Linked DNA regions of Homo sapiens: region 1 is linked to region 2. Evidence: fine-mapped expression QTL. A gene starts in region 2. The other region holds a variant in brackets. All regions are shown on one strand. Distances are from middle to middle. Region 1 has its middle 45 kb from the start of ADAM18. Region 2 holds the start of HTRA4 (HtrA serine peptidase 4).

Evidence for each region. PIP is the estimated chance that this variant, and not a neighbour inherited with it, causes the effect. A credible set is the group of variants that fine-mapping cannot tell apart.
Region 1: its variant is the best candidate, but not a certain one, in a credible set for the expression of HTRA4 in aorta (GTEx, PIP 0.74).

The regions. Positions count from the first base shown.
Region 1 is chr8:39,537,979-39,540,892 of GRCh38, forward strand. No RefSeq gene overlaps it. Among named protein-coding and RNA genes, the nearest start is that of ADAM18, 45 kb to the right of the region's middle. The variant T/C (reference allele first, on the strand shown) is at 1,650.
Region 2 is chr8:38,973,103-38,975,979 of GRCh38, forward strand. It overlaps HTRA4 (HtrA serine peptidase 4), which reads left to right and starts at 1,126. Exons shown (of 9, transcript NM_153692.4): 1 at 1,126-1,627; 2 at 1,929-2,028. The coding sequence starts at 1,162. It overlaps PLEKHA2 (pleckstrin homology domain containing A2), which reads left to right. Exons shown (of 12, transcript NM_021623.2): 12 at 1-810. RefSeq lists a silencer at 1,293-1,522 and an enhancer at 1,703-1,762.

The DNA.
Region 1 (2,914 bases), 560 kb after region 2:
TTTGGATATACACCCAAGAGTGGGATTGACGGATCATATAATAGTTATATCATTAATTTTTGGGGAAATCACCATACTAATTCCATAGCAGTAGCACCATTTTATAATCCCATCAATAGTACGTAATTGTTCACATCTTATACACCACACTTTTATTCCTAGTTCATTTAATATTTTTATTACAAAAGTGTGTGAAATCTTATGAAATGTATTTTCTACAACAATTGAGATGATCACTAGGTTTTTGTCCTTCATTATGCTAAAATAGTGTATCAAATTGTTTTATTTGTATATGTTGAGCCATCATCGCATTCCAGGATTGAATCCCACTTGGTCATGATGCTTAATCCCTTTAACGTGCTACTGACTTCAATTTCGTATTATTTTGTTGGGGAGTTATGCATCAGTGGGTAATGGGGATATTGGGCTCTAGTTTTCTTTTCTTGTTGAGCCTTTGTCTGGCATTGCTATTAAGGTAATGCTGGCCTCATAGAATGAGTTGAGACGTATTTCCTTTTCTTAATTCTTTGAAAGAGTTTGAAAAGAATTGATGTTAAATCTTCTTTACATGTTTCGTAGAAATCTCCACTGTAGAAATCTTATCCTGGGATTTTCTTTATTCAGATTTTGGAATACTATGTCTATTTTTTTACTAGTTCTGTGTCTTTCAGATTTTCTATTTCTTCACGAGGCAATCTTGATAGTTTGTGTGTGTGTAGTAATTTCTACATTTCCTCTAGTTTATCCACTTTTTTGGCATATAGTTGTTCCTAGAATTGTCTTGTAAAATGTTTTTATTTCTGTGGCATCAGTTGTAATACCTCCTATTTCATTTCATATTTTAATTATTTGAGTATTTTCTCTTGTTTCTTAATCTAGCTAAGGGTTTGCCAATTTTGTTGATCTTTTCAAAAAAACAAAATCTTTGTTTCTTGATTTTTTTCTATTTGTTTTCTAGTTTTATTATATTTGTCCCTGCTTTAATCTTTACTATTTCTTTCTTCTGCTTGCTTGGGTTTAATTTAATTTTATTTTATTAGTTCCTTGAAATGTAACATTAGATTATCGATTTTAGATCTTTCTTCTTTTGTAACGTGTGTGTTTAGAGGTATTAACTTCCCTTCTAGTAATGTTTTCACTGGACCCCATAACTTTTGGTATACTGTGTTTTCATTTTAATTTGAGAGAGTATTTTCTACTTTTCCTTGTGATTTCTTTGACTCGCCAATCATATAAGATTGTCTTGTTTGATTTCTATGTATTTCTGGATATACAAGTTTTCCATCTCTCATTGATTTTTAGTTTCTTTTCATTGAAACTGTAAAATATATTTTGCATAATTTGAATATTTTTAAAATTGTTGAGACTTGTTTCATTGTCTAACAGACATGCTGTGCTGTAAATGTTCAATTGCTCTTGACAAGAACATGCATTCTAATGTTGAGTGCAATGTTCTGTAAATATCTGTAAGGTCTAATTGGTTTATACTGTTGTACAAGTTCATTATTTACTTACTCGTCTTCTATCTAGTTATTCTGTCTATTGTTGAAAGTGGAGTATTGAAGTATCCAACTACTATTGTGCTGCCATTGTTTCCTTCAATTATTTAAAAACAATTGCTTCCTATATTTAGAAGCTCTGATATTTGA[T/C]GTATAAGTACTTATAATTGTTATATCTTCTTGGTGAACTGACACTTTCGTCTGTAACTAGTGTCCTTTTTAGTCTCTTGTAACAGTTTTGGTTTACAGTATATTTTGTCTGATATTAATATAGCTATTTTGACTCTTCTCTGGCTACTATATGCATGAAATATGTTTTACAATCCTTTCCCTTTAGGCTAATGTGTGTCCTTGTATCTAAAGTGATTCTCCTGTAGAGAACATATACTTGGATCTTGTTTTTCATCTGATCAGCTAATCTGTTTTTGTAATGAGAGTTTATTCCATTTACATTTAAATGTATTACTGATAGGAAAGAACCTATCACTGCTATTTTATTGCTTTCTTTATACCTTGTAGATTTTTGGTTCTCTATTAGTGCCTCCCTCTGTGTTTTATTGATTGTTGTGTGTTATATGATTTCAATTCCTTCTCATTTTCTTCTGTATATAATCTCTAGACATTCTCTCTTTGTGGTTATCATTACAATTAGATGAAGTATCTTAATGTCATAACAGTCAATTTTAAACTTGTAACTTCAGTCAAATGCAAACCTCTATTATTTATAGATTCACTTCCATTTTATGTTATTGATATAACACATTATATCTTGACATGTTGTGTACCCATTATATAGATGTCCAGGAGAATTTTTTGTCTTTTAAATTCTATGAAAGAATTAAAAGTAAATTTGTGTCCCAAAATTATGACAATTTTATCACACTTTTACCTTTATCAGAGAACTTTATAATTTTTATATGGCTTTGTGTTGCTCTCTGTTTTCTTTTGTTTTCCAACTTAAAAGCCTCCTTTCTCTAACATTTCTCACACATAAGGTTAGCTGTCAATGAACTCCCTCAACTTTGCTTTATCTGGAAAATTCTTGTTTCTACTTTTACTTTAGGTTCAGGGGGTACATGTGTGGGTTTGCTGCATGGGTAAGTTGCATGTAACTTAGACTTGATGTACAAATTGGCCTATCACCAAACTGTGACTACAGTACCCAATATGTAGCCTTACAACCCACAGGCCCTTCCCACCCTTCCTCCTCAAGCATTTCCCAGAGTCTGTCTTTCCCATGTTTGTGTCCATGTGCATTCAATGTTCAGCTCCCACTTCTAAGGGAAAATGTGCATATTTGTTTTTCTGTTCCTACATTGGTCCATTTATGACAATGTCTTCCAGCTGTATCCATGGTGCTGTAAAAGACATTATTTCATTTTTTATGGCTATGTAGTATTTCATGGTGAATATGT
Region 2 (2,877 bases):
CCACCATCTATTACTTTTGAAATCTTCAAAAGACTTGCTTACTCAATGTCAGCTGATGGTTGGTAAAAATAATTTGGCCTTTAGTGTTAAGTGAGACATCATAAGGGTATTGAGGTATACATTATGGAGATTGATGTCAGGTCAGAATATTGGAGTTATACATCTATTTCTGAGTTGAATACTCAGCTCCCACGAGAAAGAAAGTAGTTTTAAGGTCCAGCTTCTTAGTCTACTTGAAGCAAATTTTTTTTCTTTTATATTTCTGAATATAAATATACTCTTATATGGGCTAAAAAGACCCCATGAATAAATAGCAGGTTCAGTAGTTGAGGAGTGGAGTTTAGTAGGTTTGTTTTCAGTATAAATTAGATAACATGTGGAGGTCACAGCATTTTGGAAATTGAGTGTCCCCAAGTGAGCTTTGTTTATAAACTTTCAAAATGTCGGAAGTGGACAGGTTTGTTAAATCTTGTCTGCCAGCACCCTTTTCTTCCTTTGTTCCTTTTCCTCTCTGTGTTATTGCCTGCGGCAGCCAGTCCTTCATACTAGATAGAGTTCAGATAAAGCAAACGTTTGGCAAAAACATACTGTTTGACCTCCTCCCCCTCTGCTTATGAAGGGGTAGCATGATTCTGTGTTTTAAAGCAGTGATGTTTCAGCTGTGAAATGCACTCGCTGTAAGCTCTAGGCTGAGTGCATGGAAACTGTTACGCTTCTCATTTTATGTGATCTCCTAATTGGTATGTAGCAAAAATTTTCTAAAACTGTTTTGTGGCTTGTTTTGTAATAAAACCATGTGAAATACTGAAATATGGTCATGTGTTTTCCTAATACTGACCTTCTGACCATGGGTGGGTGAGCTTTCTTATCAGTCTGCCCTCATTGTCGGTTTTAGGGATTTCAGGAGGTAGGTTCCTGCTCCGGGTAGGGCTAGAGACCTTCCCCTCATTGCCTGGGGGAGAACCTGGCTCCGGGGCGCCGACGGGGGCGGGTGGTAGGGGATGTACGGGTGTGTATATGCAGAGGTATGCCAGGCTCTGCCCCTTAAAGTTTGGGGGCCGGCGGAGGCGGCGCCGTGGCCGGGAGAAAGTGTCTCTCATTTAGGAGGGTTTGCAGGTCCAGAGTAAAGTCACTGAAGAGTGGAAGCGAGGAAGGAACAGGATGATTAGACCTCAGCTGCGGACCGCGGGGCTGGGACGATGCCTCCTGCCGGGGCTGCTGCTGCTCCTGGTGCCCGTCCTCTGGGCCGGGGCTGAAAAGCTACATACCCAGCCCTCCTGCCCCGCGGTCTGCCAGCCCACGCGCTGCCCCGCGCTGCCCACCTGCGCGCTGGGGACCACGCCGGTGTTCGACCTGTGCCGCTGTTGCCGCGTCTGCCCCGCGGCCGAGCGTGAAGTCTGCGGCGGGGCGCAGGGCCAACCGTGCGCCCCGGGGCTGCAGTGCCTCCAGCCGCTGCGCCCCGGGTTCCCCAGCACCTGCGGTTGCCCGACGCTGGGAGGGGCCGTGTGCGGCAGCGACAGGCGCACCTACCCCAGCATGTGCGCGCTCCGGGCCGAAAACCGCGCCGCGCGCCGCCTGGGCAAGGTCCCGGCCGTGCCTGTGCAGTGGGGGAACTGCGGGGATACAGGTGAGCCGCGGGGGCGCGCGCCCTCGGAACACTTTCTAACTCTGGAGGAGCGTAAAGGAACAAGACCTCACTGAGACCGCACAGTTCGCGCCTGGTCCTCCTGCGTCATTTGCCTCCTGGATTCGACACCTCTGTGTTCCTGATTTCCTTTCCTCCTTAACAGGGGCTCTTTACCGGCTGCTACGTGGTTTCTCCCTCCCCATGCACCTTTTGAACACTGTCTTGCCTTTAACATTTTTCCAACTAGGATAGCAGGTCTGGTTCCCTCGAGGCGTACTCTTGAGCCAGTATTTTTTCATAGGGACCAGAAGCGCAGGCCCGCTCAGGAGGAATTACAACTTCATCGCCGCGGTGGTGGAGAAGGTGGCGCCATCGGTGGTTCACGTGCAGCTGTGGGGCAGGTAAAGGAGGAGGAGGAAGACCTCCACTGTCCCAGCTAATGGTTTCTGCGTGCCTACCTGCTCCAGACCCTTCGCAAGCGTCATTTAATCCTAAAAAACCAGTGAGGAAACTGAGACGTAAAGAGGTTGAATAACCTGTTCAAGGTCATTTAACCAAAGAGCAGAGGCACAAGGATGCTGACTTCTAAATCCCAGCTCCCCCTGCCCACTTAGGTGGCTGGTGCTTTTTCCCCCTCCTGCCACAGACAAAATTTAAGGTCAGATATAAGAGCTAGTAGGCAATTTCTTTTCTTTTTTTGAGACAAGGTCTTGCTCTGTCGCCAGGGCTGAAATGCAGTGACAGATCACGGCTCACTGCAGCTCCATCTGCTGGGCTCAAGTAATCCTCCCAACCCAGCCTCTGGAGTAACTGGGACTATAGGCAGGTGCCACCATACCCAGCTAATATTTGTATTTTTTTGTAGAGACGAGGTCTTGTTATATTGCTCAGGCTGGTCTCGAACTCCTGGGCCCAAACGATCTGCCACCTTAGCCTCCCGACGTGCTGGGATTACGGGTGTAGCCACCACATCCAGCTTAGTAGGCATTTTGGTTGTGATCTTGCTCAGCCCCCACTTTGGATACAAGGAAATCCAGACCCAGAGAGCAGGGTTAATTTGTCCTATGTTACTATGTTACGAGGCCAGTTGGCGGTGGAAACTAAGCCAGAATCAGAGCCCTTTGATTCTCTCCTGCCTGGGTCCTTGATACTGTGGTAAGAGGCTGACTTTTGCCTCTAGTATTAGGATTGGGTTCAGTCTTTTCGCAGCAGAGAACCCATGGGCTGCTACACTAACCAGCTCTGAAGAA